Regions from separate parts of the Homo sapiens genome. Here region 2 is linked to region 1. The links come from fine-mapping of genetic effects on gene expression. A gene starts in region 1. The other region holds a variant in brackets. All regions are shown on one strand. Distances are from middle to middle. Region 1 holds the start of LINC00366 (long intergenic non-protein coding RNA 366). Region 2 overlaps FREM2 (FRAS1 related extracellular matrix 2).

What was found.
Region 2: its variant is fine-mapped to the expression of LINC00366 in prefrontal cortex (CommonMind, PIP 0.92).

The regions. Positions count from the first base shown.
Region 1 is chr13:38,559,269-38,575,739 of GRCh38, reverse strand. It overlaps LINC00366 (long intergenic non-protein coding RNA 366), which reads right to left and starts at 8,016. Exons shown (of 4, transcript NR_046999.1): 1 at 7,945-8,016. The region is part of intron 2 of LINC00437 (long intergenic non-protein coding RNA 437); the gene reads left to right. It overlaps LOC105370167 (a long non-coding RNA gene), which reads left to right and starts at 8,120. Exons shown (of 2, transcript XR_941883.3): 1 at 8,120-8,208; 2 at 8,289-8,656.
Region 2 is chr13:38,696,238-38,712,708 of GRCh38, reverse strand. It overlaps FREM2 (FRAS1 related extracellular matrix 2), which reads right to left. Exons shown (of 24, transcript NM_207361.6): 2 at 14,922-15,011. Among named protein-coding and RNA genes, the nearest start is that of FREM2, 17 kb to the right of the region's middle. RefSeq lists a silencer at 14,443-14,737. The variant T/C (reference allele first, on the strand shown) is at 7,387.

The DNA of each region.
Region 1 (16,471 bases):
GTGACTCTCAATTTTCTCATTGTATTGTTCAGAACAACAGACTGCTACAGAGGTGGACAAAATTGTTCTGGCTTCCTGTCGAACAGCTTTTATTGAACTACACATTGCCAAGATTATATGGGTTTACACTGAGAGATAAGAAACAGCCTTGTTTTTGTTGTTGAAATTCCTATGCATTATATTGCATGGCTTGTTATGCATTAGTACCTAAGGTTTAAGTTTCTTTCCATTCTTGTAATAGGAAAGAGTTTGTTTATATCTTACGGATTCTGTAGATTACATCACTGATTATATCTCTGGAAGGCATAGAGGCATATTTCTGATTCTTCTGTAAAACCTAAGTAGGATTTGATGGTTTGTAGTAACCTAACTTTTGACTATAATATGTCCTTGATGTTTTCCTTTTGCTTCTGTAGGTTTTTCTATTTTTTGCTGAGCTACTTTTTAATGCAGTCATGAACTGCATGACAATATTTGATCAATGATGGTAGTCCTATTATAATACCATATTTTCACTGTAGCATTTTAATTTTAGATATGTTTAGATACACAAATGCTTACCATACTGTTACAATTATCTCTAGCATTCAGTACAGTAACATGCTATACAAGTTTATAGCCTGGGAGCATTGGCTCATATAGCCTAAGTGTGTAGTGGGCTATACCTTCTAGATCTGTGTAAACATACTCTATAATGTTCACACAACAACAAAATCCCCTAACCACACATTTATTGGAAGGTATCCTCATCTTTCAGTGATGCATGACTTTTTTATGTGTTAGGATCGGTTTCCAATGTTTTCAGCAACACCACCCTGAATCATACAATATGATCTGAGTATGTGTGTGTGTGTGTTTATACATATACATATGTTTGTGCATGCACCCATATATGTTATATATATTTATTAAATATACATATATATTATATACACATTATATCCATTTATATAAATCTATACAGATGTTTATATACAAAGAAAAGTTCAAAACATTGATCATTGTAATCTATGGTAATAACATTATAGATATGCTTGGTATACTGTTTTATGTTTCCTAAATTGCATTCAATGATATATTTTATTTTGAATCAGAAAAAAGTTAAAATTATAGAAATTTAAATAATACATAATTTAAAATTCTGAATACTATAGGGAAAGAGTAAACTTAACATTTTTCTAGGTAGTTATCTAATTTCTCAGAATTATTTTTGAAAAAAGCCATCATTTCTCTGTTAATATAAAATGCCACCTTTATTATAGACTAATTTCCTATCATTTGTCAGATGCTAGCATTATTTAGTCCAACATTGATTCCCTGTTTCCTTCTTAGAAATATGAGTGTTAATTTTTAGCTAGGTAAATAACGTACAAATGAAACTATGATTTCCTGCCTTCTTTATGGCAAGATGTGGTCACATGTCTAGGTTCTGGCCAATGAAATGCCATCAAGATTACCAAGTGGGCCACAGGGGAAGGCTGATTAAAGGGAACTCATTCATTGAAGAGGAATTCCTTTTTTACTCCTTTGGCTTTACTTTTCCTTCTGCCCTGCAGTGTGGAAGTGATGGATGGGTTCCAGCAAATGTATTGGACTAAAACATAACCCAGAGGGTAGAAGCCACACTTAGGATGGAACTATACACCAAAAATATCCAGGTGGAAAGCTTCAGTTATTGATGAACTTGGAGCTGTCTTGCCAGCCCTAAACTATCCGCCTCCAGACTTCTTTTATGTAAAATATAAATATGTAGATTCTATTTATACCTTTGTTCTTTGGAGTTTTTCTTTTATTTCTAGCCTTTGAACTTCTTCCAATCAGTATGGGCTATCTTATTTTAATTATTGAAGCACTTTAATGCATCTTAATAATTGGAAGTGTACTCTCCTTTACATTTATTTTGAAGGATTTAGCCTCATTTTTTTCAATTAAACAAGCTTCAGTAACATTTTTGTATTCACAAGACATTTTTCAGCTATTTTTATCATAATTATATTACACTTAGGCCATATTAATTACACAGGATGAGAATGTTTACACCATTAAGTTCTACTCCAGTGTTATAATATGCGTCTTCATTTGCTAGTCTTTTTTATATGCCACAATAAACTTTTTGTAGTTTACTTTGTCTGGATTCTGCGCATTTCTTTATAAATTTATTGTAATCTATTTATAACTTTTGTTGTTACTATGAGAAAAGTATTTTTACTCACTGTTTTCAAACATTATTATCGGTACATTGAACACTGTGAAGTTTGGAAATCGGACATTTTTCTGAATTCACTTTTGAGTTTTAATCACGTTTTTGTTGGTTTTCTTAGTTTTCCTTAGTAGGCAATAACATAATGTGAAAATTATGATTTCTGCTATTTATTGGCCTGGATTATTTATTAGTATTGCATCGATTATAATGTCTTGATAATATACATTTAATAAGACTGGTAAAAGAAATACACTCCTAATGTTTCTGACTTTAAAAATAGTTGCAATTTTTCACCATCAAGTGTTATCTTGGTTTTGATAAAATTTTTATTATATTGGAGATTGTTCTGTAGTACACTACCATGTCTTCATTTGTGCTGAATTAAAAGAAAAATATTCTATAATGTGGTTATTAGCATTCTCTTGGAAGTTCTACTAGATGGATTTTTTTGAGAATTAAAAAAATATATTTATGAAGTAAAGATCTAGCCTATTCAGATATCTATCATTTTTTTTTCACCTTTTATTTTAGTTTTGGGGGTAGATGTGCAGGTTTGTTACATTGGTAATTACATATTAGTGAGGTTTGGTGTACAAATGATCCTGTCACACAGGTAGTGAGCATGGTACCCAATAGGAAGCTTTTCAACCCTTGCCACCACCTCACCCTTCCCCATCTGGTAGTCCCTTAGCGTCTATTGTTCCCACCTCTATATCCTGTGTACTGAATTTTTAGCTCCCACTTAGAAGTCAGAATATGTGATATTTGGTTTTCCATTCCTGTGCTAATTTGCTTAGGATAATGACCTCCAGCTGCATCCATGTTACTGTAAAGAACATGATTTCATTCTTTTTATGGCTGCATAGTACTCCATGGTGTATATGTATCATATTTTCTTTATACAGTCCACCACTGGTGGGCATCTTGGTTGATTCCATGTCTTTGCTATTAAAAATAGTGCTGTGATGAATGTACACATCCATGTCTTTTTGGTAGAACAATTTATTTTCCTTTTGGCTCTATACCCAGTATTGGGATTGCTGGGTCAAATGGTAGCTCTGTTTCAAGGTTTTTTTTTTTTTTTTTTGAGAAATCTCCACACTACTTTTCACAGTGGTTGAAGTAATTTATATCTCCACCAACATTATATAAGCATTCCCTTTTCTCCAAAACCTTGCCGACATCTGTTATTTTCTGACATTTTAATAATAGCCTTTCTGACTAGTGTGAGATGGTATCTCTTTGAGCTTTTGATTTGCATTTCTCTGATGATCAGTGAAGTTGAGCATTTTTTCATGTAGTTTTTGGACACATGCATATTTCCTTTTGGGAAATTTCTGTTCATGCTCTTTGCCTGTTTTTTAAGGGGATTACTTGTTTGTTCTTGATGAATTGTTTAAGTTCCTTTTAGATTCTCTATGTTAGACCTTTGTTGAATGCACAGTTTGCAAATATCTTCTCCCATTCTGTAGGATGTCTGTTTAATCTGTTGATAATTTTTTTTTTGCTGTGCAGAAGCTCTTTAGTTTAACTAGGTCCCACTAGTCAATTTTTGTTATTGTTGCAATTGCTTTTGGGAACTTTGTCATAAATTCTTTGCCAAGTCTGATGTCCAGAATGACATTTACTAGCTTTTTTCTATGATTTTTATAGTTTTGGGTATTACATTTAAGTCTTTAATCCATCTTCAGTTAATTTCTGCATAGATCTAGTCAGCTTTTCTAACACAATTTATTAAATAGGGAGTCCTTTCCCCATTGCTTCTTATTGTTGACTTTGTCAAAGATCAGATGGTTTTAGGTGTTCAGCTTTATTTCTGAGTTCTCTAATTTGTTCCATTGGTCTATGTTGTCTGTTTTTGTACCAGTACCATGCTATATTGGTTACTGTATCCTTGTAGTGTAGTTTGAAGTTGGGTAGTGTGATGCCTGTAGCTTTGTTCTTTTATGTAGACGTGTTTTTGTTATTCAGGCCTTTTTTTGGTTTCATATAAATTTTGGAACAGTATTTTAAAATTATGTGAAAAATGTCATTGGCAGTTTGATAGGAATAGCATTGAATCCATAGACTGCTTTGGGCAATATGGCAATTTTAACAATATTGATTCTTCCGATGTATGAACATGAGATTTTTTTCCATTTTTTTTTTTATCATCTGTGATTTCTTCAGCAGTTTTGTAGTTCACCATGCAGAGATCTTTCATCTCCTTGGTGTATTCCTTTCATCTCCTTAGATGTATTCCTAGTTATTTTTTCTATTTTAAATGGGATTGAATTCCTGATTTGGCTCTCAGATTGAATGTTATCGGCATGTCAAAATACTACTGATTATTGTACATTGATTTTGTATCCTGAAATTTTACTGAAATTGTTTATCCATTCTAGGAGCCTTTTGTTGGAGTCTTTAGGATTTTGTAGGTATAGAATCATATCATCAGTGAAGAGTGATAATTTGACTTCTCCTTTTCCTATTTGGATGCCTTTTATTTCTTATTTCTTTCTCTTGCCTGATTGCTTTGGCTAGGACTTCCAGTACTACATTATAGAGGAATGGTGAGAATGGGCATTATTGTCTTGTTCTAGTTCTTAAGTGGAACGCTTCCAGCTTTTTCCTGTTCAGTATGATGTCAGCTGGGTGTTGGTCATAGATAACTCATTATTTTGGGGTGTGTTCCTTCCTTGCCTATTGTGTTGAAGGTTTTTATTATGAAAGCATGTTGGATTTTATCAAAAGCTTTTTCAGCAGCTTTTGAGATTATCAGGTGGTTTTGTTTTTAATTCTGTTGATGTCATGAATCACATTTATTGATTTATGTATGTTGAACCAGCCCTTCATCCCAGGAATAAAGCCTACTTGATTGTTGTGAATAAACTTTTTGATATGCTGCTGGATTTGGTTTGTTAATATTTTGTTGAGGATTTTTGCATCTTTGGTCATTAGGGATATTGGCCTGTAGTTTCATTTTTTTCATAGTGTCTTTGCCAGATTTTGCTATCACAATGATGACGTCTTTGTAGAATGAGTTAGGGAGGAGTCTCTCCTCCTATATATTTTGGAACCGTTTTAGTACCACAGTGACCATCTCTTCTTTGTATGTCTCACAGAATTCAGCTATGAATCCATCTGATCCAGGACTTTTTTTGATTGGTACATTTTTTGTTATGGATTAAATTGTGAAATTTAATATTGATGTGTTCAGGGCTTTGATTTCTTTCTGACTCAGTTTTGGGAGGTTGTGTGTTTCTGGAAATTTATCCATTTCCTCTAAATTTTCTAGTTCATGTGCACAGGGGTCTTCATAATTGCCTCTTAGGGTTTTTGTATTTCTGTGGGATCAGCTGTAATATTGTTTGTCATTCCTGAGTGCACTTATTTGGATTTTCTCTTTTTCTTTGTTAATCTAGCTAGCAGTCTATCAATCTTGTTTATTCTTTCAAACTACCAGCTGTTGGCTTTGCTAATTCTTTGTATGACTTTTTTGCTTATAGTTTTGTTCAGTTATGCTCTGATTTGGTTATTTCTTTCCTTCTTCTAGCTTTGGGGTTACTTTTTTGTTTTTCTAGTTCTTCTAGGTGGGATGTTAGATTGTTAATTTGAGATCTTTCTAATGGCTTCACATAGGCATTTAGCACTATAAACTTTCCTCTTAAAACTGCTTTAGCTGTATATCAGAGATTTTGGTATGTTGTGTCTCTGTTTTCATTAATTTCAAAGACTTTTAAAGTTGCTGTCTTAATTTTATTGTTTACACCAAAGTCATTCAGAAACAAGTGTTTAATTGCCATGTAATTGTGTGTTCTTCAGAGATCTTCTTGGTATTTATTAGTATTTTTTATTTTTTTTGAGACAGGGTTCCACTCTGTTGTTGAGGCTGGCTAGAGTGCAGTGATGTGATCTCAGCTCACTGCAACCTCCGCCTCCCAGGTTCAATGGATTCTCCCACCTCAGCCTCCGGAGTGGCTGGCACTCCAGGCATGTGCCATTATGCCTGGCTAATTTTTGTATTTTTTGGTAGAGACAGGGTTTCACTGTGTTGGCCAGGCTTGTCTCAAACTCCTGACCTTAAGTGATCCGCTCACCTTGGCCTCCCAAAGTGTTGGGATTACAGGCATGAGTCACCGTGCCTGACCTTGATTTGTATTTTTTTCCACTGTGGTTCAAAAGTATGGTTGGTATGATTTTGATTTCTTTAAATTTATTGAGACTTGCTTCAAGGCCAAGTATGTGGTCAATCTTACAGTATGTTTTGTGTGCAGATGAGAAGAATGTATATTATGTGGTGGATGGGTAGAGTGTTCTGTAGATATCTATTAGGTCCATTTGGTCAAGTATCCAATTTAAGTCCAGAATCCCTTTGTTAGTTTTCTGCCTCGGTAATCTAACACTGTCAGTGGGGTATTGAAATCCCCAACTATTATTGTGTGAATGTCTACATCTTTTTGTAGTTGTAGAAGTATTTGTTTTGTGTATCTGGTTGCTTCAATGTTGGGTGCTTATATATTTAGGATAGTTAGGTCATCTTGTAGGATTGAACCCTTTATCATTATGTAGTGTCGTTCTTTGTTCTTTTTTTACTGTTGTTGGTTTAAAGTCTATTCTATCTGACATAAGAATAACTACCCTCGCTCCTTTATGTTCCATTTGTATGATAGATCTTCATCCAACCTTTACCTTGAGTCTATGGATGTCATTACATGTGACATGGACCTCTTAAAAATTGGAGATGGATGGGTCTTTTTATTTTTTAATGTAACTTGCCACCCTATGCCTTTTAAATGAGGCATTTAGACTGTTTACATTCAGGGTTAATATTGATACTTGAAGTTTTGATCCTATCATGAAGTTTTTTGTTGGATGTTTTGCAGTCTGTATTGTGCAGTTGCTTTAAATGGTCTGTGGGCTGTGTACTTAGGTGTGGTTTCCTGGTAACAGGTATTGTTTTTCATCTCCGTATTCATAACTCTTCTAAGGATCTCTTGTGAGGCTGGTTTAGTGGTAATGAATTCTCTTAGCAATGCCTTGGCTGAAAAAGATTGTATTTCTCCTTCATGTATGAAGCTTAGTATGACAGGGTGTGAAATTCTTGGTCAGAGTTCCTTTTCTTTGAGATGCTGAAAATAGGCCCCTACTCTCTTCTAGCGTGTAGGGTTTCTGCAGAGTAGTTTTTCTTAGCCTGTTGGGGTTCCCTTTTTTTGTGATCTGACCTTTTTCTCTAGCTGCATTTAAGATTTTTTTCTTTAGCATTGACATTCTGGTGACTATATCCCTTGGTGATGTTTGTTTTGTATAGTATCAGTAAGGTGGTCTCTGAATTTCTTGTATGTGCATGTCTAACTCTCTATCAAGATTAGGGCAATTTTCTTGAATTTTGTCCTCAAATATAATGTTTACTAGGTTGTTTACTATCTCTTCTTATCTCCCAGGCATACTAATAATTCATAGGCTTGATTGCTTTTCAAATCCCATATTTCTCAGAGGCTTTATTCATCTATTCTAATTCTTTTTTCTTTATTTTTATCTGACTGGTTTAGTTTGAAAGACTGATCTTCAAGCTCTGAAATTCTTTCTTCTGCCTGGTCTATGCTACTAAAAAATATGCTTTCAATTCTGTTTTGAAATCCCTTCAGTTTTTCAGTTCCAGTGGCTTTGATTGATTTTGTTTTAAAATGTTTTCCTCTATCCTTATTTCCTGGATTGCTTTAGAAGTTTTTTTCTGTTTGTGTGTTGATTTGCAATCTTACCTTGAATTGCACTGAACTTGCCTGCAATCCATGCTCTGAATTCTCCATCTGCATCTCTGTGCCTCCTTTTCTGCTAGGGACCATTGCTAGAGAGCTACTGTGAGCCTCTGGTGATGTCACAATATTCAGACAGAATTCTCACACTGGTTCCTTCTCATCTGGAGATGGCTGTAGTGGGCAGGCTGTTTTGGCTCTGCTTCTACAGACCTATGCAGCAGGTTTTGTATTGGGTTCAACCTACAGGCCAATAGATGACATTTGCAGGTAAGAGCCAGCTACTTACTGCACAACAGGGAGGGTATGGCCCTGATCTGTTTACTGTGACGTGTTCTTTGCTGTTTCAGGTGAAGAGCTGGATAGTGGGGTTCCTGGTGTTCCGTGGAAGAGGCCGGACACAATTGGGCAGAGCTGGAGCCTCTGGCTTGCCCATGTGTATCCCAATGGCAAGCACAGGCACCAGCCCTGAAAAGGGTGGCTGGGAGATGCTCTTAGGGACATGCCCCAGAGATCTCTGTGTGGGGCAGAGTGAGGAGGCTTCACTGGCTCCCGCATGGTAGACAGACATGAACAGAATCTATTTCCCTATCACACCCATTGCAGGTACTTCAGATGCACACTGTAGTCTATCTCCAGACCACAGTGTGGTTGATTGAAAGCCTCAGGAAACCTTGTTTTCCAGAAGAAAATAAACTTGATGTTTTCTTTGGGCCTATCATTATCATCACTATGATTATCATGTACAGTTTGCTTGAATTTACCACAAAATTCAATGCTTGCTTAATATTAAAAAATGAGACGGTTGTTCTCCAAGATTGTGTACATTATTATTTAACCATCTTCTTCTAAATAAAGGACGATGAAAAACTTAAGATTTACTCTAGTTTTCCTCTGCCAGTTCAATGACATACTGCTTGAGAAATGGAAAAACTGGAGTTTCAACTCCCTATTTAGTATGGCAGCTATTCTGTTCCTGGCACGGCCATTTGTGTTGTGTTGTGAGCCCATTAAAAGTGATTCTATGTTTTTTCCATAGATGTCGTCTTTGGTAGTTGGCATTCTTCCCAGAGGAAGATAATGGGAATCAGACATGCTTCTGATTGTCCCACCAGCCAGCTGCCGGTTTCAGCCCAAGCCATTCTGAATTGGAGGATGATGGTCTAGCTTTACTTCTCAAATAGGCTACTCCTTCCCACATGGTCAGGTCAGCTTTTTAATTAGTTAATTTTTTTCCTCCAGCCCCACCAGTACTATATTTAGCAGAAATATACTACTTTGTAGTAAACACTACTCTCTTCCAGATTGATTTAACTCTGACAAAATAAACAAAGTCTTAGGCCAAGTGTGGTGACTTACTCTTGTAATCTTAGCACTTTGGGAGATCAGAAAGATCACTTGGGCCCAGGAATTTGAGATCAGCCTGGACTGTGAGACCCTGTCTCTACAAAAAAAAAAAAAAAATTAGCCAGGTGTGGTGACACATGCCTGTAGTCCCGGCTAATCAGGAGGCTGAGGCAGGAAGATCGCTTTTGCCTGGGAGGTCAAGGCTGCCCTGAGCCGTGAGCTGTGATCAAGCTACTGTACTCCAGCCTGGAAAACAGAGCAAGATTTTATCTATACTAAAAAAATTAAACAAATTAAAAGTCTTTCTATTCTTGTTGTTCTGGTGACTATTTCAATAAAAGTCTAGGAGAGGAGGAATTTAAAATGGGCATTCGAGTCACATCTGTTCATTCAGCAGATAATTTTGAGTACTGCCTCTGTTCCAGGCACTATCATAGGCATTGAGTGGTGGACAGAGAATGATCATCCTCACTTGCGGGGAGAGGATTCAGCCTCTTGAGATCTTACTTGGAAATTATCCCATCTATTCATTTTGAATTACATCTTATCTTGAATTATGAGTATTTAATGTAGCTGGCTCAATTTTGAAACAAAGTGATTTATAAATAAATAAGATGAAATATTAACTATATATACATAAAAGAGATTTCACTTGAGGTCCATCATTCAAGCACAATAAACCATCACTAAATATTCTTGAACACTGGCTCCATTGGGTAACAGTCTCTTTATGCTGCCATTCTTTAATTGTGTAGCATGCGTGATATCTAAATCTCTAGGCGCTTGCAGAATGATTATATTGTTTATTGGAAACACTAATAACAAATAACTTTAATTCTATTTTGTATTTTTCATTGTAAAAATTGATTGACATATGTAGTTATCTCAGACTCTTTTACTCAAACTTTTTAAAACGATTGATGCAATTGTATTCTCATAAGTTTTGGAGGCTTCTGTAGCCAAAAAACAAAAATCAAAGGCATAGGAATGTTAAATAGTAAATATTTATTTTCATATGCTGGTCCAAATAACTGGATCAAATCCTTTCTAAAATAGTAGTTACGCAGCATTTCCATCTTTATAATACATACAATTATAATATTAAAAAATCCCTATAGTATTATTCCATTTCAATGCTCTGCTACAAATCTTTTTCCATTTATTTGGTATATAATTTTTGGATAATACACCCATTCTTTCCTGATCATTTTTGTTCAGACTGTAGGTTTAATGCATATAATTCTGCATTTCTTCATCATAATCATCATTTCTAGCATTGGTATTCACTCACTGGAATGTCATGTCTATGTAAATGCTAATCCATTTCTCATTTTTCTCCTGTAAAATATTCTTTTTTTCTTATTTCTTTATTTAAAGTAGAAGCTTTAATTGTGTCTGGGTAAATTGCCACAGTTCCAGTGACAGCTTTGGAGCCTCTGATTAAAAGTCATTTACTTACAAAGAAGCTCTGTTCTCTCTAAACCAGTTTAGATGCCTGAGGCCTTTTGGTATTAATGGTCTCTACTGCTGCAGCCACAGAAATGCCTGTGATTAAAGTAATTACTAGTTCTTTAGTTGTTCATTAAAGCAATCCTGTAAAAAATTTGTTTGAATTACTAGGTAGTGACTTATCTGTGCATTACACAAGCTCAAGACAATATGGCTTATTCATATCAGCACAGAAGAGATAGGACAGACAGAACACAGCCCCAGAGTCCAGCACCTAAACAGGGCAGAGGCAGAGAAAATGCACTAGTATCACAGTTGACACTAGATTCTAAAACCTAGAAGGGCAGCCACTGGCCAAAGACTAAGGGTAGTAATGAGATTTTCAATCAGGCATTTTGTTACTTACCGAACATTTTTCAAAGTCCATTATGTCCCATACTCTATTCTGCAGGTCGCAGACGAAAAATCAGTCTCCTGGGAAAGCTCTCAGCCTGATTGAGAAAGGAGACCTATAAAGAAACAATTACAATACAGCACTCAAAATGTCACAGGGGAAAAAGTTTCTATAGAAAATGGAAGACAATGTCTAAATTCAGCGGCCTAAAGTGAGCAATTCCGTGAATATTTACCTCCTAGTTAATCTGTCATGACCCATTATGTTAATAGTTGGGAGACTGGCTTCAATTCTGGAAAAGACGCAGGTGTGAAGAATCTGAACGTATTTCCAAACTAGGGACTAGAAGAGGGCTTCAGTGCCAGTGGGGGCTTGGTGCCAGGGATAGGAAGTGAACAGAGACAAGGTTAAAAGGCAAGATGTCTGAAAGGGAGTAGTTGTTTAGGGGTGAAGAGGCAGAGAGAACACGGGTAGTTTCTAGTGCTTTAGGGTCCTGAGTATAATTTGCATCACCATTTTTAAGAAGGAGAGATGGGTAAAGCTGGAATCCCAAAGTCACGGTTGCCTCATGACATTAGATCTTGAAGGAAAAATTAACTGTGTTTCTCAGTAGGTGGTAGTAAAGATGTGGCTGCTGCTTTAATTCCAGCCTAGGTCAGTACACACTCAGGACCTGGAATGTGACTGAACATGCATGTCAAGGTGTCAATTACTCCTCCTTAAGGAGCTAAACTTGCAGGTGCAGAGGGAGGGAGACTAAATCTCACAAATGTTTAATGATAATAAAAAAGATATGCACAGAAATTTTTATTTTCATTGTACGAGGATTTTAATGCTTTATCTTAAAAATGTGTAGAATAACTGTTCTTTAAAAGTTGCCAATATGAATATTATTTTGTATGAACCTGAAGTGTATAGAACGTTGCATAGTTTTCACAAAATACTGAAAACTAATTAACTGGCTGAGTACAGAGAATATTATTTCTCTGTATATAAGAGTTTCTCAACTTTGGCACCTTTAACATTTTGGACTGGAGATCTCTTCGTTGTTGCGGACCGTCCTGTGCATTGTAGAGTATTTACAGCACCCCTGGCTTCTAAAAGCTAGGTGCCATTAGCATGCCCCCTTCCCCATCACACTTCTGAAGTCAGTACAATAAAAATATTTCCAAACACTGCTTTATATTTTAGAATTTGAATAGTTATATAACATTATATTATTTGCTCCATACATACATTTCCTAAAATGTTTCTCAATTCCTTTCCTAAAGCATGACTCAATTTCCTTGAGATGAAGGACATTTAAAGATGTCATCAAACCTCATCAGTGGGGGATATTTTAAGAACAACCACCAATATTATTACCCTGGAGACACTTAATTCTATCACCCTTCACTGGCCACCACAAAAATAAACCAAATAATTAAAAAAAATTCCAGACCTATTAAGAAGACTCGTTGCTTTTCTAGAATTATCACTAAAGCTTGATTTTTTTTTTCAAAGTGAACAATCAACCAAATGCATTGGAGATATTATGTTCACCAATGGGACTGTAAATGACAAGTCCACACGAAACCCCTGAGAGGCACTGAATACACTAAGTTGCCTCTTTTTATTGGTAATATGTTTAAAATAAGCAATCAATGTATAGAATACGTTTCATGGTATCACATCCCAGTTTTATTCTTCCTCATATGGTTGATTTTGTTATGACAAAATAACATCACTCTTCATGTACATAAATGCACTGCTTAGCTTCCAGAATAGTGCTTGACATTCAGTAAATATTTGTTAACTTAATGACTGGATTGTCACAAGATGCCATGGCATTACCAAGTTCTCTTTAACAGCAAAATTTAAGTCTTTTACTGACTAATTTGAAAATAAATTATTTTGCAAGATTTTCTATTTCAGTCTTTGTAGTGGATGTCATGGTGCACAGCCTTTGTGAAGCACTCATTTCCCCAGGAGTCAGTAATTCTGACTGCTGATGGCTCATAGCTGAAAACTTCCTAGGAATTACCCTCCATCAGTAGAAGCTGGAGGCAACCTGCATCCAATGGTGGTTGATTTAGTGATACAATTTGGACATCTCTAAAGGATTATCCTAGCTCCAGTGCTCGCTGTGGGAAAGATGAAAAGTTGTTTCAGTTGCATAATGGCTCAACTTCTTCCTCTGCCCACTCCCCAACAGATGCTTTTCCCCTAGCAGTCCCCAGAAAGCTTTCTGTATACAAACATCCATCCCAAGATCTACTCCCCTGGGGACCTGATACACAGCAGGTGGTGCCAGGAGCACTCCACAAAAGAATAATCTAAAAAGGGAATTTGAACTGAATAACCCGTAACCTATTGAGAGAGATCATTGGTAACAGGTGGAAAGAGGACAGGGCCTGGTGTGCTGTGGCAATGCAGTTGATAAAATTCTCACCAATGCTGAACTGGGATGAGCTAGTGCTGTTCTCAGTGGCGCGATACTTCTCCCCTCTCTGGAAACGCTTGTTGAAGCCTGAGACAATTCTGATAGAGATGATGTATGTGTGTTGAGGGAGAGGGGATGATGGTGTTACTGGCATCTAGCAGGTAGTGTCCAGGGATGGTGCTTAACAGAACGGACCCCTGCCCCCCACAAGAAAAAAAATAACCTGTCGAAACGGCAGTAGGGTTGAGGATAAAAACAAAAAACAAACAAGTTACAGTGAAAGGAATGCACTCGCTGATGCAGTCTTTCAGGTGTTGGAGAGGCTAGGGGAGATTAGTTAGTATGAAAACAATTGAATGAGATGGTTCTTACTTGAAAGATAGAGGGTGAGTAATCACCAATTTAAAGCAGAGTGTGAAAGTCAAGGGCCCCTTGGCAGCACATCTCTACAGAAGATCCTGGGCATGAGGCCGAATGCTTAATTATAAGGGTAGTTGAACTGCAGTGAAGTTTGAATCCTCAACCTAAACAAGACCATTCTGTCAAGATTAGAGCTGAGATTGGGAGGAGTGAAACCTCAAAGTTGGGATGTGACACTTCAGTCAACTCACTTGAAAACCTTGCAACCCAGGTTACCTCTACCGCTTCTGGTCTGCATAACTTCCCCCATCCCCAGCCCTGCTTGAAGATAACAGAACACTCTGCCTTTCAAGACCAGGTGTGCTGCCCGGAGAGGATTGACTTCTACCTCCCTTCTTGACAACCAGACCAATGAGGAGGGCCAAGTAACAGTAGAACCCATTCAACAAAGTGCTGGGCTTGGCGAGAGGGAAAAGGAACTCTATCTGAGAGAAGCTGCGGAGACTTAAACGTGAACAGAGGAGTATACGTGGACTTAATCCAGAGGGTGCTGAAGCAAGGGAGATAGAATATGAAGTTGGGTAAGGGAGAGTTTATAGAAATAAAATTACTCTAAACGCTCTAAAAAGGACCTCAAGGAATGATGCTAATCCAGTGCTAGGTTGTCTCTTGGAAACTTGGAAAGTGAAGGCTCATGCTAAGTGAAGCAGAAATGCTAGAACTGCCATTGTAGATGATGGATGAAGGGACCAAAAGGCCCATAGAGCTGGAAGGGCCAGAGTAGATACACTGCATGAGGCCTCCATCATTGTGGGCTCCTAGCACCCCAATTTTACTGGGGAGTCCAGTTCTATAATAACATCTCTTATCATCAGCCCAGTCCTAGAGGAGACCACTGCCACTGAGCTCCTCTTCAGTGTTGGGACCCCTTCCACCTTATTACTTCTTAAGTGGTGTCTTCTGGGCTGGTGTTTCCTGAACTGATATACTCCTGATCCCGAATCTCATTTTTTTTCCTCTACACTTAACTGCTTCTTAGGTAACAACAACAACAACAAAAAACCAAGCGTGTGCGCGCGCACACACACACACACACATAGACACACATCAATGAGTTTCTCATCCTGTGTTGCCTAAGTGAGCCTAACCCTGAGGCCATCATGGTACTCAGAGAACAGGAAACCCTACCCCAAGTAGACCCAGGCCACCTTTGCATTGCTACATCAATAGAGAAACATGCTCCTGTAGTTTCCATTTTGAGGGGGAAAATCTTCCCATTGCTCTCACACTCTTTCTTAGCTACCCAAATTTCTCTGTACCCCATATTCCTGGGTGCTCACCTGACCTACTTTGCTTAACTTCTAAGATCAAATAAGAGTGAACATTTCAGGATGTTAATATTTTATACATATTTGAAATGTCATGTTATAAAATTGATCCCAATAAATTGACACAATCTATTAGAAATTAAACTTGGGTAAACATTATAAAAAGTTATAGCAACATAACTAACTGGTTTTTATTGGAAAACAACAATACCATAACTTTCAGTATATTTGTAAGTCTTTAAATTCTAGTTTTATACTTTTGTTGTAGAAGGTCATCTCTATATGGATTTTTAAGGGAGTTTCTTACAGCTTATTAGAAAATGTTTTTATTTGATATGGCCTTACTGAAATTTGATATGGCATCTCTTGGCAACACCACATAGCACTCTGCTCTTCCTCCTTTTTTCCCCCCAAAGCCAGCCAAAAATCAATAGAATTCACACATTTCCCTTAAGTAAACACGTTTGAGCCAGAAAACATTTTGCATGTCAGGTGAAAGATATATTTTATCTTGTTGTATTTCTTTTCAGTAGAGCTTCATGGCTCTCTGGAACAAAATGTTTTCAATCTTGATGTTTGAGCTCTCTGAGAGATTCTATGAAGCAAAGCAAAAAGCAACCAGATGCTTGACACATATTATTGAATGTAATATATTGCAATTATATTGCACATTATATTCTCTAGATGAGAAGGTATAGCCTGTAAGTACATCCAAACTCAATAAAACTGTGTAGAGTGAATAACTCAACAATGTCCCCCCAAAAAAAGTTAGTTAAAGAAATAGATTTGTCTGATGAATGCATGACAATAAGAAAACATTATGAAACATTATATTATGGGGAAAGGAGCTAAAAGGAGTACAAGATAAATGTGAATATGTCACATAATGAAACAATAAAATTCTGAATCAAGCTATAGAGAGAGAATATTTGAAAACCTGGGTAAAGTGTTTATGGCACAACACAGACAATATTATTTAATGCAATACTGCACATATATTTAAGCAGAAATTTTATTCCACTTATGAGCATTGTGTACCAATTTTTGATGTATTTCAATTATTTCATGTGCAATAAGAGATCAGATATGATTACCAGTTTCTACCGTCTTAGGTTGTGACCTCAAGATTTGCATAGGATATATTCACTCATATTGGAATCTGCTACTTTTGTGATTGAGTTTGATTCAATTAACATTTCAGATTTTCCAAGAAGTATATCAATACGTATTTGT
Region 2 (16,471 bases), 140 kb before region 1:
AGTCTGTGTGTGTACTTGTGTGTGTGTGTGTTTGTGTGTGTGTGTGTGTGTGTGTGTGAGAGAGAGAAAGAGAGAGTAAGAGACAGAGAGAAAGAGAGAAAGAAAGAAAGAAAGAAAATGTGTATGTATATCTGCCTGCCTTAGGGCAACTGATAGGATAAAAATTGAAATGGGTACAAAATGCTTTCTATATTCTAATTAATAAATATACCAAATGATCATTAAAATACTTGAAGGGTCTATGTAAATATATTGTCCTTGAGGAAGAAAGAATAATATAGCAAAACTTGTATTTAGCTATATTGGTAGATTCAAAGGCGGCCTAATCAGTTTTATCTACTACTTATATTAAGGAAACTTGGGCTTGGTAATACAACCACTATGAATTAAGCAACTACCTAACAAGGCAGAATCATATTTGTCTAGAGTATTGCAGAAGAGCCCTTAGCCACATCCAGTGCATACACCACATGCTTTGGCTCTGCTCTGTTGCATCTAGTTCTTAAACTCTCAGGGGCTGGGCGCGGTGGCTCACGCCTGTAATCCCAGCACTTTGGGGGGCCGAGGCAGGTGGATCACGAGGAACATGGTGAAACCCCGTCTCTACTAAAATTACAAAAATTAGCTGGGGGTGGGGGAAGGCGCCTGTAGTCCCAGCTATTAGGGAGGCTGAGGCAGGAGAATCACTTGAACACTGGGATGTGGAGGTTGCAGTGAGCCGAGATCACACCACTGCACTCCAGCCTGGGCAACAGAGCGAGAATCCCCTCAAAAAAAAAAAAAAAAAAAAAAAAAGAAATTATCAGCCCCAGAGACCCACAAGATAAGCCACTGCATTTAAAACTGTTTGTGGTCACTCTCAGTGCTTGGGGATATTAATAACAAAGTGTTGACCACATTTTTAATCCAGGTTTTTAAATTTACATAAACTCGATTCACTTCAGTTTTTCCATAGAAAAAATTTCTTTAAAATCCTAAAGTGCTTTTAAATTTTTTGGGAAGTAGTAAGACTATTTTAAAAACTATCTATGCATGAATATAATACACTTATGATATGATCAAAGACATTAAAACTTTAGGAATCTTCTATTTAAAAAACAATCCATTCCTTGAAATATCAAAAATCAAATGCTATATGGTATCCATAATTCTAAGGACTCTATAACACATGGTTTTCACTACATTCACTATGTGTGCTCATACAGTGAATATTTAAACAATATGGTAAAAAACACAGGCTCCTAAGATAGCATCTTAAAACAAGTGATTCATTAATATTTCCAGATAGGTTTACTTTACCACATCATTTAGTAACATCACTTATTTTTTTAATCTAGTATAAAATGCTTTGCTAGTCCACTTTATCTCTTACTGCTATCTTCATCCTACATTAAATGAAACAGACATGAATTGTCATTTAACTGACTCTCTAATGTTTACTTTTACCACATACATACTGGCTGGAGGCGAAGACGGGGATGGGAAGGGAAAGGGAGCTGGTGGTTGTCTCAGTTTTATCAAAGTGATGCAGAGAAATGGGAGATTAAAGTGAGCACATTAAGACAAGGGTGTAAACTCACTCCATTCTCAACAGCATCCAGAACATAAATCAAGAAGGTACAATATGCTTATTACATGAACCAAGTCAAAGAAATGGCAGCATCTACAAATGCTGAAATATCTGGAAGTGATATCTCTACACTAGAAACATACCTAGGGGTGTACAAATAAGGACAGCAATTTCATTTATAAAGAGCAAGAGTTTGATGTCACCATAAAAGTGTGTGCAAACAATTACAGGAAAGTATATGTCCATATACACCTATGTGTTCTTGAAAGATATAGAAAGTAAGCACAAGCTTCCATTTATTTTTACACTATTTTTAACTGGTAAGCCTATTCTGTTTTTCTTTAGATTTTTCTCTTGACTTCTGAAGTTACTCCACATGCAACTTTAAGAGAAAATAGAAATCAACAATTCACCTATGCTTTACATTTATTTATGACTCACTCCACACGTATTTATTGACCTCCTACTAAGTGCCGTGTGGTGACTAAGGCAACTCAGCACTGAAGAAGAGACATAAATATGAATGAAACAGCTCTCGCAGTTGAGAAGCTTTGTAAACACAAATGTATATAAGGAGTTCCAGTACAGAGTGGTACATTTAGGGCTGGTATACCAATTGTTAGGGTGAAATGCATCTCGATTGATTAACAGATTAGCAGAAAGTTTAATGAAAACTTGGCAGAGCCAGGGTTCAAGGCCAAAATGCCTAGAAGAGCTCTCTTCTCATTGGTCCTGAAGTACATAGATTCACCTAATTAAACTTTGCATTCCAGTGAATAATTTTTGTGACTTCATCTACAAATAGAGATATTGAATATATGAGTCTCATATATTTTTTAAGTCTTAGAAATAGTTTGAATGTAATTGCTTTCATTCAGGAAAAGCTGAGTAGATTTAGCACCGTGACCAATATCATTGATGTTTTTTGTGTTTTTTTGTTGTTGTTGTTTCGTGACAGAGTCTCACTCACTCTGTCACCCAGGCTGGAGTGCAGTCGCGCAATCTCGGCTCACTGCAACTTCTGCCTCCTGGGTTCATGCGATTTTCCTGCCTCAGCCTCCTGCTGGGAACACAGGTATGTGCCATCACGCCCGGCTAATTTGTGTGTGTGTGTGTGTGTGTGTGTGTGTGTGTGTGTGTGTGTGTGTGTGTATTTTTAGTTAGACTAATTTTTCACCGTTTGGCCAGGCTGGTCTTGAACTCCTGACCACAAGTGATCCACTCATCTCAGCCTCCCAAAGTGCTGGGATTATAGGCATGAGCCACCGCGCCCGGCCATCACTGATGTTAAGAGCAATTTTCTACCAATTGGGACTACAAGTCACTTAATAATAAGCAGTTTAAGGGTAAAGTCATTAGAAGGGTTTGGTACAGTATCTGTGTCAAATCACGGTCCTAGGAGAGTACCCTTCAGCTTGTGAAAGCCACTTTAAATAAAAGATGACGTCAAAATAAAAGATTTTTAAATTATCCGTGTGATTTGAGGAGCAATTTGTACTATGATATAGCACTTATAAGCATTCTCATATAACATAGGTATATATACCTATGTAGTATATTCTGCATAATATATATGCATCTACATAATAGTCTAACAACCTTTTACATTATATTATATATTATTAAATATTTGTGCTGCCCCATACATCACTTGGTAAGCAATTATGTATTTGTATACATGTATGTGTCTATATATTTACACAGTTATATGTACATATATAATATTTTACAATTGGCATAATGATTTAAATTATTATATAAATCAATATATTGCTATATACATCCATGTTTTGAATCTAGCTTTGAGATCCAAATATGAGTTGTTATGGGAAACACAGCGGAGATGTCTGACCCTAAGGATAGGAGTAGAAGGTGTCAGGAAGAAAATGTGCCATCTCTACTGAATCTCATGCAGAGGAAGTGGGCAGGGGATTGAGGAAGAAAGGAAAGGCGAGTGTGCATGAAGTAGCATGGCATGTGCAGGAATCCTGAGTAGGCAGCATGGTTGCATTGGGTCAGACCTGCACAGTTTGTACAACATGGGAAGAGTCTGAATTTTATCCTGTGAGAGAACATTGAGGCTGGATGTGGTGGCTTATGCCTATAATCCCAGCACTTTGGGAGGCAAACGCAGGTGGATCACCTGAGGTCAGGAGTTCAAGACGAGCCTGGCCAACATGATGAAACCCTGACTCTACTAAAAATACAAAAATTATCTGGGCGTCATGGCGGGCACCTGTAATCCCAGCTACTCAGAAGGCTGAGGCAGGAGAATTGCTTGAACCTGTGAGGCAGAGGTTGCAGTGAGCCAAGATCGCACCATTGCATTCCAGCGTGGGCAACAAAAGAGAAATTCTGTCTCAAAACAAAACAAAACAAAACATTGAGAGTTATAAAGTAGAGACAACATCAAATTTACAGTTTAGAAAATTATGGCAGAAGAAGGGAGGAAAGACTTTTTTTAAAGATTATTTATTTATTTATTGAGACAGAGTCTCATTCTGTCACCCAGGCTGGGGTGCAGTGGCGCAATCTCAGCTCACCACAACCTCCATCTCCCGGGTTCAGGTGATTCTCCTGCCTCAGCCTCCCGAGTAGCTGGGATTACAGGCACACGCTACCAGGCCCAGCTAATTTTTGTATTTTTAGTAGAGACAGTGTTTCACCATGTTGTCCAGGCTGGTCTCGAACCCCTGACCTCAAGTGATCTGCCCTCCTTAGCCTCCCAAGATGCTGGGATTACAGGCATGAGCCACTGCGCCCGGTCTAAAATCACATTTGTATTTTTAGGTAATTTTGGAAACAAGCTATATCCAGGTCAGAGGGGAAGGCAAAAAGAGACAAAGAGATCCATTAGAATTGCACTGGAAGAAATATTTTCCTTCACTCAATAAATATTTATCGAGCACCTATATGTACTCAGGCACTGAGGGTATATCAATGAAAATCAGAGATAAAAATCCTGGCTCTCATGGACAGCATATATTATAGTGGGGGTCAATGGCTAACATGAATATAGCACTTACTTTGTGCCTATGATTATTTTAAGCAGTTTACATCTGTTACGTCATTTAAGATAAACTTCAATGTGGTTCTGAAGGAACCAATGGCCATGGAGAATGTGTGGGAATCCTACTCAACAGAAATTCAGGAACCAGGGAAAGCTGCCTGGATTTAGCACCTGGGTGGACACGGATGGTGAAACAAAATGACCCTGAGGTTTAGGTGGCAAGAAGAAACTGAGAAAACAATTTCCTAAAGGATTAAATGTAGCCTACCTTTCATAATTTTATAGCAGTGATGCAATGCACTTAATTTTTGGCCATTTCTGCATAAAATCAAGTAAAGCAAGAGAAGTATTACGGGGACACAAAATGGTTCTTTTCTTTCTTGGGGATTTCTAAAGTCTACCAACCAGTTTCACAACTTTATTTTCAATTTCTGAAGTGGCACTCTTGAACTATTCTTAAAAACACTGTTTTCAGTGTTCTCAACTCGTGCCTCTAACAGCTGGATAAGTAGAGTTAAAGGTAGCAGGTGGCACATTACAAAGATGAAAGGATTAAACCTTCCTGTGCTAAAAAATCCAGCAGAGGGATGGAGAACAGGCGCTTCTCTCTCAACCTGCAGTAATGTAGTCAGAGCTCTCTGGGAATAGAAAGAGGACAATTGTGTCCTCACTTCCTTCATCAAAAGCTACCATGAAGGCTGCTATTTTCTAAGCTTAGCATGAAATTAACATGCAGAAAAAAATGTTCTAAGTTGAAAACCAAATATAGCTATATAATTTTATTCCCTAATCTTTTTGTATAATTTCTTTGTTCCAAGAATACTAATACTCTGCAAAAAAATGAATCATATCTAATGGTAATTAGCTATAACTGAATAATTCATTCTAGAAACTTCTCTCCTAAAAATGTAAGAATTCTAAGTGTAAACCATCTGAAGGTACACTGTTTCTTTAACATAATATTCCCTCAGTGAAACATTGCTTATATGCAGCCACTTGGCAATTTTTTTTATAAAGGGCAGAACCGGATTAATAAATTAATAATCTTAGTAAACTTGCACTAACTGTTCTGAAACAGAATATTAAGAAAAACATTTTTTTCTCATTTATACAAATATTTTTGCTCTTAGAAAATGTACATTATGAAATCAATCCACATTTGTGAAGCAAGAACAAAAGTACCTATACTTTATTCATGTGTGTGATTCATGCATTCATCACTGTGTCACAAAGTTAAACTTCAATGAATCTTATTTTTCCTTATTTGCAATGAGGATTAAGTATGACATTTGTCCTTTTGAACTCATTGGGATATTGTAGAAAGGTACAAGGCTTTAATACTTATCAGGTAGGAAGTTTGTGATTGTAGATGTGAAATAAAATTTATTCATTACCCAATCATTACTTACAAAAATATTAAAATTACAAGATTCTAAAAAGCATATAGTTTTCCTCTAATCTCAGAAAAAGCAGGATTTTATATTTTCATAAAATAAAATCAAGAAGCATTCTTTTAGTACAAATTGTTTCCATAAGCAACATTGAGTTTTTGAAGGAACTTGTTAGGAGTATCTACATACACACAACACTCATTTTCCAATGACCCCAGTAAGGAATTTCAAGTTCCTTAATGCCTAAATTTAAAACAAGCTCTTCTCAGTGCCTAAATTTACTAGTTTTCTCAAAGGTACATTTATTTACTTGCTTTTTTCTCTATGATATTGACTAAATGGGGCATCTGGCCACTGGGGTGACTATATCATTCTCTATATAACAAAGCATATTTAGGCGATTCCAATATCTGAATAAACATGGCATTTAATCAATCTCTCCAACCACTTATGGCTCAGTGTATTAGAGATTTGCAATCAAAACTACCCTTTGAACCTCATGTTTGCTAAACCCAGATGTTTCGAAGGGTTATATTTTGATCAAATCAAGATACGGTATTAATCTTCAAGCCTATAAAGTTTACACTTCAACCCTTAAAAAGGAGAAATAAAACATGCAGGCTGAGCTTCAGAGATACAGTGGGTTTTTAAAAATTTCTGTTATTTGGCCATAGTGAAAACTCATTTGTTATCATTTTTGTAATGAAAATATTAGTTAAACTACTTACAACGTGTGAAATAACTTTGGAAGCCTCCGTAGCATTGAAACGTTGCACTACAGAAGGGCTCATCAGGTTCTGACTTTCCATCCCTGTGTATTCCCCCATCTTTCTACCAACACCAAATGAACAGTCTAACTGTATAGACAGCTGCTGTGAGAAAGACAGGAGAAAGGAAGAAAGGAAGAAAAGAAGAAAGGGAGGGAGGGGAAATAAAGAAAGAAAAATAAAGAACAGCATAGCTCTGGAAGCCCTCAGAGTAGCAGCTACAGCAGCAGCAGCTACCTGCATAGTTGTTACTATGTGACAGGAACTGTGCCGCATGAATGATCTTATTTTCATGAATTATCTACTTAATCTTAAAAAGAACCCTATTAGCTAGGTACTGTTATTATCCCAACTTTATAAATGAAACTGAGGCTGAGGAAGTCTCGGTCACTTGGCTCAGGGTCACGTCACCAATTACGGTAAGAGGCACAAGCAGTATTTGTTCCAGCTCTCACTCCTAAAGCTGCGCTTCTAACTGTGATGGAAGAAAAGATAAGCAAGATCAAAAGGCTGGCTTCCTGTATACACATTTCAAAGAAGTAAGAGGTCTCATAATTAATATGTTTCTAATGTCCTCTTAATTTCCTCCCTTAAACCTAGTCCATGCCCCTCTAGTCTATTTCATCTCCATAAATGGCAGCACCATTC[T/C]CTGCTGGCTGTAAAACCCAGAATCATGCTTACGGTCTCCTTTTTTCTTACCCTACACTCCAACTCATCAATAAGTCTTACAGATTTGGATCCAACATTATATCAAGCTTACCTTATTCTTCCCATATGACATCTGTCTTTCTGCATCGGCCTCATGTCAATCTTCCTGTTTCCCCTTGCTGCCCTCCTATAGATCCTCTACACCTGCAAGAATCATCTTTCTAAAACACAAATTGGAACACAATGCTCCCTTTCTTTAAAATGATTTAGTTTGGGATATGGTTTGGCTCTGTGTCCCCACCCAAATCTCATTTCGAATTGGAATTCCCATGTGTCGAGGGAGAAACCTGGTGAGAGGTGATTGGATCATGGTGGCGGTTCCCCCATGCGGTTCTCATGATAGCTAGTGAGTTCTCATGAGATCTGATGGTTTAAAAGTGTGGCACTTCCCTTCACTCACTCTCTCCTCTGCTACCCTTTGAAGAAGGTACTTGCTTCTCTTTCATTTTCTGCTGTGATTGTAAGTTTCCTGAGGCCTCCCCAGCCATGCATAACTGGGTCAATTAAACCTTTTCTTCACAAATTAGCCAATCTCAGGTAGTTCTTTAGACCACTGTGAAAACTGACTAATACAGGTGGATACTCTTTTCTTTAGCACAAAATCTAAATCACTCCTCTGGGTATACAAGGCTCTGCACCATCAGGCTTTGATCTAGCTCTCCAGCCTCATCTTGTTACCTTCTCTGGTTTGTTCATGGAGCTGCAGGCATGCTGGTGCTTTTCTGGTGACTTGAACACACAAAGCTCAGTCCCTTTGCACATGCTTTTGCTGCCACCTGGAAGGTTTCTTCTTCCCTTCCTCTAGTGGCAGCTTCATCCTGTCCTAAGTCTATACTTAAATACCACCTTTCAGGTGCCTTTCCTGACAGCTGTGTCTCTATCTGGGGCTTAATTATAACTGTCAGAATACTTTAAACAAAGTTTAACTCATTCGTCTACTTCTTTATCCTAAGGATGAATCTCAGGTCAAAGATCATGACTGTAATATTCATCACTGTATTCTCAGACCCCAATGGACACCTGAAACATGGTGAGTGGGTGCTCCAAAAATATTTGTTGAGTAATTCGATAAAGAAATTTACAAGGAATCTTGCTTTAGCCAATAAGATTCACCATAGAAACTCTGACCCTTCTTTTACATTGCATTCTGGTTATCTGTTGCATTATCTTAGGTTCTGGCAAATACAGAATAATACCAATTACCACTGTGTGCTTCTCCTTTGAAAATAACTTCCCACTTCTCCCAGCCATCAGAGCAAATGTAAAGAGACAGATTGAGATACTATCAAATTATTAACATATGCCACAAATAAATATTTGATTTGAGATTATGGTACTTTAATCACCTATGAAAAATATGCTTAGTGTTTAAAAGGTGACTATCATTTGTTCTGAGTAATATGAAATCATGTGAAATTTCTAGAAATCTTCCTAACAAGAATTCATTGTCACCCAAAGATTTAACAATTTAAAAAAATGTTCTCGGAACTAAAGCCAATGAAAACAGTATATTCATATAATGTATAATTTTGGAATGAATCTAAAGAATAATAATAAATAAAATTGAGTTTTACTTTTCTATCTAAAAGGTATAAAAACTTGAGTTTATACTTTTCTATCTAAAAGGTTTAACTTCGTTCTTGCACACAGTACAGGTACCTTAATAGAATCATGCTTTTAAAGGCAGGGATCTGGCCTAGAAACACCCTGATGACTTGATCTATTGTGAACTGCTCAATGAAGAGTGAAAGGCTTACAAACATTCAGCCACAGTAGCCAACACTCCTTCCCAAGATCTGTATTCTAGTAGACCTTGTGGTCTCTCACAGATTAAAAATATTTGTATCAGTGCCTGACATTACTTCACCATCTTATTATAACTCCCTAAGGCACTAGCATCTTTCCCCCTGGTTCTCATGTCACTAGCAATTAATTTTATTGCCAAGAATGCTTGCTTTTTTCTCTGAGCTGAATATGTCTGTATAATCTTTTAATGCTTGTACTCAGACCTCTCTTTTCTACTTACTCTATTTATATTTTTCCAGCCCTTGATTTAACTTCAAGCTAATTATCAGTAATTATTTTGCCTTAAACCCCAAAGTTATTGGTCATTTTCAAGCAAAAACTTGTACTCCTTCTATTAAAAATGAAAGGCTTCCGGTAGTCTCTTTGTGTTTGAGGAGTCAATCATCAAATACGGAATAACAATTCAAAAGCCTTGACCTTAAATGACATTTCATATACAGAAATGACTTTGCAGCTTCTACTATGTCAAGATACTATTTATAATATCCTTCAATAGCATATGAATCAAGGATCTTGGGGGATGGAAAATTGGGCACCAAAGGCATAATCAAAGACAGCAGCAAAAAAATGTCTGGCTGTGGCCCAGATAACACTATAATGGCCAACACAGATATTATGTCTGCCGCCCCAGTTTCAATGCCAAACTCAGCAGGCAGAACTCACTGAGACTGCATGCCTATGTCATATGAGAGGTTTCAAATAAGGAAGCAGCAAGCTGGTTTTCATAATGAATACAAATGTAAGACTCCTCCTACTCAATATGTCCAGCCAGGTGATCATGTATTCTAATTTTTTCTTAAGCCCATCAAGAAACAAGCTGGATCTGATGCTGAGGTATGTATTCTAATTTTTTCTCAAGCCCATCAAGAAACAAGCTGGATCTGATGCTGAGGCTTTGAGACTTAAAACAAACAAACAAAAAAGTTTACACGAGGACTTTTTAATGAAAACTAGAGATACTTTTTGCTGGTATTGTCTTCTACTTCTCCACCTGTCCTAATGTTATCTCATACCACACAAGAAAATACTGGGGTAACTGAAAATACAGTAGTGGTGCTGCTGGCTTGAAAATTTTAGTGACTTATAGGAAATGGTTATTTCCTTTTAGATTTTAAATTGTATAATTCTTTAATAATAAACCGACAAGTTTTTTTTTCTGAAAAGGCTTGTTTAAGAATAATATGAGCTCTGAACTGGTGGTTAATACTTCAATCTTAAGTACATTTCACTGAAGATTTTGAAGGAATTTTCACAGCAGTTGATTTAGTTAATTTCATGCGTTTAAAAATGTGAAAGCTTCACTAAAAAACTTTCCTGGTGCCATAGGGATTTAAATTAATGCTAGGATAGAACAACGTTCTAAAGGAATGCAAAGGGTCTACTGGGAATTGTTTATAGGAGTTTTTCATATAATACTATTTAATTGATCTTTATGTCAAAAGAGAGCAATTGTTTTTCTCCTGTTTATCCATTCATTTATTTAATGTTCGGTAAGTATTTACCTCGTGCTCAGCCTTGGCACTGAGGTACAAAGATTAATGATACCTTTTTTGATATGAAGGAGTTTCTTCCTTACTAATGGAGGTTTCCACATTAGCAAATAATCATAATATAAATTTTTACTGTAAATAAAGTTGGGGAGAAAAGCATAAAAAAGAGTGAGACTAATTATGTAATTGTGATGTTGGGAGCAACTTTGGAGAGGAAATGATATTTGAGCCTGGTGTTGAAGAGTGATTAACAATCATTAGGGTTGAGGGTGGGGCATGCCTGGAATAGTTATTTGAGACCAGCTTTCACATCACAATAAAGAGCTAGAAGGGCCCGACAAAGCACTTTCATGTTAGAATACCTTATAGAAAAATTACAGAGAGTTGAACACTGAGAAGGAATCAGATAAAAATGTTTGACTACAAAGAGGATAAAAGAATAAATATTTTATTTCTCCCTAACAAAATTCCAGAGTACTGGATCTGGAATTACAATTCAAAGAGGCAGTCAACAAAGGAAGATGTATTTCCCAGGTCTGTATTATTATAAGTTACCTTCGTGAAGATATAAAGCACGAAAACCAAAAGAAATGGAAGACAGCTAAATCCACAGGCAGTTGCTACATATATACACGAGCTCATTAGATGAAGCCGCAGACAGCGGGAATATATTCTTGAACTTCAGAGTTTGACCTTATACTTTGTAATGATGCATTCATGTATGTTGACTGGCCCAGAACACCTGGGTGAGTGCCTTATTCTGATATCACATTTTCATGCTCTTTACTAATATTCCAATAAGCATATTGCATTATAAAATAATCATTTTAAGAATTGCACTATGAAAGTAACTATTGGGTACTAGACTTAGTACCTGGGTCACAAAATAATCAGCACAACAACCCCCCTTGACATGACTTTACCTATATAACAAACCTCCACATGTACCTCTGAACCGAAAACAAAGGTTTTTAAAAAGAGAATTACACTATGATACCAAGAAAGAGTACTACAAAGTTTAGGGCACTACAACTTTTAAAGTATTTTAAAATAAAAATGCACATTTTAGAAAACACAAAGCTCTTTGTCTATCCTAAAAGCAGATCCTACTCTGACTTCACTCACATCTATTAAACATTCCTAGAAAGTTGGTCTGGAGAACCCAGAGAAGTTCAAGAGTTCCCCCTCTTATCCCTATCCTGAATAAGTGTGGAAGTTATCGCTTATTACTGAGGAAAGAATTTGAGATTGAAAGCAGCCTCTAGTTGCCCAGCTGTGCAGCTTGAAGGAGGAAAGTTACTTATTTTGGTGACTCAGTTTCCTCATCTGCCAAATAGAAATCATACTAAGTTTTTTTTGCTGTTTTTGTTGCTCACAGAGATGTTATGAAGGTAAAATCGCATAAGAAACAATAAATAACATAGAAGGTTTGAAATCTAATTGAAAGAACCCTAAGATACAAGGATCTGTGTATGTGTGTGGACATGTGCTATATCAACCAACGTGTATTAAGTCCAAATACAGTAGACTTCCCCTGAGGTAAAGACCCTGATGTTATCTGTTGCTCAGATAGTGCTCTCTTTACTTCTGTCATTTGGTAAAAGTCCCAAAGCACTCCAAAACTTCAAAGGTAGTAACCCTTTCCCAAGCATAGTCCTTTTAGTAATGGATAGTCACTAATCCATTACTACATCATAACAGAAGAATCCTGTGGCGAGCCAGATTCCCATGGTAACACAATTAAATCTGAAACAAGAGGTCTGAGCCTTCTGTTCTTCTCAATCTCTTCTCCTACTCTAAATCCCTTAAATTGAATTATGTTTTATTTTTAAGGTTATTCATGGATGATGGTTGCCCCACTAATTTCCTTAGATAGTTACTGTTATAAAATCAATCACGTTGATTTGAAGAAGATGCATTTATCAGATTGGAAAGCAAGCTGGACATACAGAGTTCTCAATTTTATGCCATTGTGCCCTGACTTGCTTCCCAGGGGTGAAATACTCACACATTTCATATTTCATCGGGATGACTTATAGATATGCCTACTATCATTGTATAGACTAGACGACAATAAATCACTACAGTTAATTAAGTTTAAACAGTATTGCACTTCTCATTCAAATGTCAGAAGATTTATACGGCAATGCAAAAATCCTAAAAAAATTTAAGAATCAGGTTAAAACAATTTAGGGATACCAATGTGACTTTTTAATCTTGCAGGTCTCTGTGTTTATTCTGTCAAAGGATAGTTTTCTTATATCAGGGGAATTAAAGTAAATTCTATTCAACAGCTTGCCAAAATCTGCCTGAGCTCCATAGGTAATGTTATGCCAGTAAAGAGGAAGAGGGTAAAAAAGAAAATCTGAAATTTTTATCTCTCACATGAAACTCTCTCTCTAAAAAGACTCCTAAAATGATATGTTCCTACTTCCATAAAGACAATCTTTGGAGGCCTTGCCACATTTTCAGCAAATTCAAACATAAACCGAGCCCCTTCAGCTAGTCATTCTTCACTTAATATTTTGCACTTAATATTTTGAAATATGATACTATAGAATGTTTTCCAAAATTGGAATAGAGACCAAAATTTTAAAGTAAATGCTACCATTCCACCCAGGTAAGGTAAAATAATGTGTGTGTGTTTGTGTATGAGCAAAAAAAGCAAAATATTTTATTAAAAAGTATAGAATATTTTAGTGTAATTGCAGCCATTGAATTTGAAACTTTTTTTGGTAATTTTACAGAAAGTCACACTTTTGCTATTGAGGTTTACTCAGTCATCCTAAGAGATAAACATGGTGTTTTAAACCAATAATTTCATCCTTAAATTTTTATATATGTTACAGAGATTTGGATTATTTCAGGGTTTCACTCTACAGTTAGTTACAATAGAATTTCCCATTTGAGCAGCAAAATTCAAGAAGGTTTTTTTTATGAGTTGATTTCCTTTTTAGAACTTCGTTTTATGCTAAGATGCCTTTCATCAATACGTAGAATACTAAACTATGATTTGGTTACTCAAAAAATAAAGGCACTCACATGATTGACTCTCTGATTCATAGTAGGAATCAAACAGTTGAACCCAACATAACACATTTTGTTTGCCTCTCTGGCACACACTCAACAATTGACATTTTTCAGAACTGTGATCATGTTGTGTCCATTGATATTTTAAACAAATACTATGTAATGCTTCAAAAAACATGGAGGGTAAGGATGCAGTATTTTTGAGATAGACGACATAATAGTGTGCCATTTTTAAAAAGCATCATAAGGAAACAGATAACAGAGTATGAATTATTTTTCTCCTTCCTCTCTCTGCTCTCTCACATATACCCTCAGTTCTGGTGTCCTGTTCACACAACACATGTACTAGGGGAGGTTCTTTTGCTTCAAAAGAAAACATGCAAGAACAAAAACATCTTTATGAGCAATCTGAAAGTGACCAGTTTTTCTCCTCACCCACAGGGTTAGGAAGACAAGAGATCCAAAGCTGAAAGGAGTATAAACAGCAGGCAGTTCTGGGGGAGTAATGAGAATAATATCGCCCAAAAGACTTAGCTCAGAAGTCACATCCTATACTCTGAAGTATTCTTCACACTTAACCAAGAAAAATTTTTAGCTGGACTAGGTCACAAAATCCCCCAAACTAAGAAAATCATTAGAAGTCCTGAGATTGGTGAGATAAAACAGACATTAATTTACTACTGATTTCTTGGTGAATGCAACACATTTTCCATCAGTATTAGTCCACACAGAACCCATGAGCAAATCAGGAAAAAGCAGCTCCTTTGGGCAGCTACACCTCAGTGAGCACATGGCTATGAGTGGAACTGCAGCTGAATTCCAACATCCTCTTACTGACTCAAGTAGGCAAACTCATGCAGGGTGTAATCTGAACAACTAGACATGGAGATCCTATTTATACAGATCTCTCTCTTTAGTGCTTTACAAATAGTAAGACAAAAGTGATATAACTAGAACTTTTATCTATAGCCATGACATAGTAGGATTGTGTCATAGTGAGATTGTAAAATTGTCTACAGCAAATACCAGGTTAAATTTAGGTGATCATGAAATATTACTTGATGAAGACTTCTTGTAATAATGTCATCAGAGAGCAACCAAGAAAAGCGTCTCTCCTTGCGGTCACTACCAGGAGAGGGGAATACTTACCACCATCTTCAACTGCAAAATAGAACATATCACTTGTGGCATTAGCCCCTTCTCTTAAGACATAGCATATTTTCATGTCATCAATGTCAGCTAGAAAATAACCAAAAAACAAGATGATTAATTACCAGAGTAAAATTGATGATTCATTATGGTAAATTTTATTGGCTATTAGTTTTCCTATAAACATGTTTAAATTCCTTTTTCCTCCTAACAGAAACAGTGCTGTCTTATTTCTCAGATCTCTAAGCCCCTAGATTTCAGCTGTCCCATGGACACCTGATCCCTCACACAGATAAATACAGTGCAAGAGTTAGTTTATAATAATAGCAAGGTGTTTCCCCTCCCAGTGGTATTTGCATGTTCATGCACCAAAGGAATGACTGTCTAAATATGGAATGTCAGGCACCATGACAGGTGGAAAGGAAGATATTTTGAGGCATGGCAGATTTCCTGGCACTCTTGAAATCACATCCTTTGCCTCCCAGTAGGGAACTGGCCCGCAGAGGACAGAGCTTTGCTCCCCAACACTGGCTAACTTTTCTTACTTTTTGTGCTGTAGCAGGCTATTTTTTAAGCTCTCCAAAGTTTGAGAGAAAAAAATAAGATGATATTTTCAAAAAATCACACACATTGAAATAACTGATGACTCCCTGTTGAGAACAAAAAACATCTAATAAAAGTGGAAACGGGCTGGACACGGTGGCTCATGCGTATAATCCCAGCACTTTGGGAGGCTGAGGCAGGTGGATTATGTGAGGTCAGGAGTTCAAGACCAGCCTGGCCAACATGGTGAAACCCTGTCTCTATTAAAAATTGGCTGGGTGTGGTGGTGCGTTCCTGTAATCCCAGCTATTCGGGAGGCTGAGGCAGGAGAATTGCTTGAGCCTGGGAGGCAAAGGTTGCAGTGAGCTGAGGTCGCACCACTGCACTCTAGCCTGGGCAAGAGAATGAGACCCTGTCTCAAAAAAAAAAAAAAAGTGGAAACCTTTATTCATGGCAGAAAGTTATATTGCCTCAGAAATGTTCCTTATGTTGTTTCCTACTTTATCAAATTCACATGCATACATTTGTTTTCATTATGAAGACACAATTTTTAAAACTTATTCATCCATCTTACCAGTTCCTTTCCTTAATGATGCCACACATACAACATAATAAGAAAAAAATCGTTTTGTTCTGTGATACTCATAATAGATCATTAATTGATCTGGGCCAATCAGTGAGTTTCTAAGACTACATAAAGTCAAGATCATGGCTAAAAATAGCTATGACAATGATAGGTAATATTTATCTGTCTAGTGTGTGTTCTATGGTTTTTTCATCTCCTAAAAGCTCTAGTAAGTTCATGCTATGGAATTCAAAGGCTTATAAAGAAGACAATGGCTTTATGAAATGTTAATCTCAAGTGAGGCAAGGCATTAGGATGGACCAATGATGCCACAAATTTCTATAGCTCCACTTTACAGATGTAAAATGTGTGGTCTACCCTGGCTCATAAAGTTTTGAAAGGTGACTCATTATTAGGAACACTTGCAGAATGGAAAATCTGA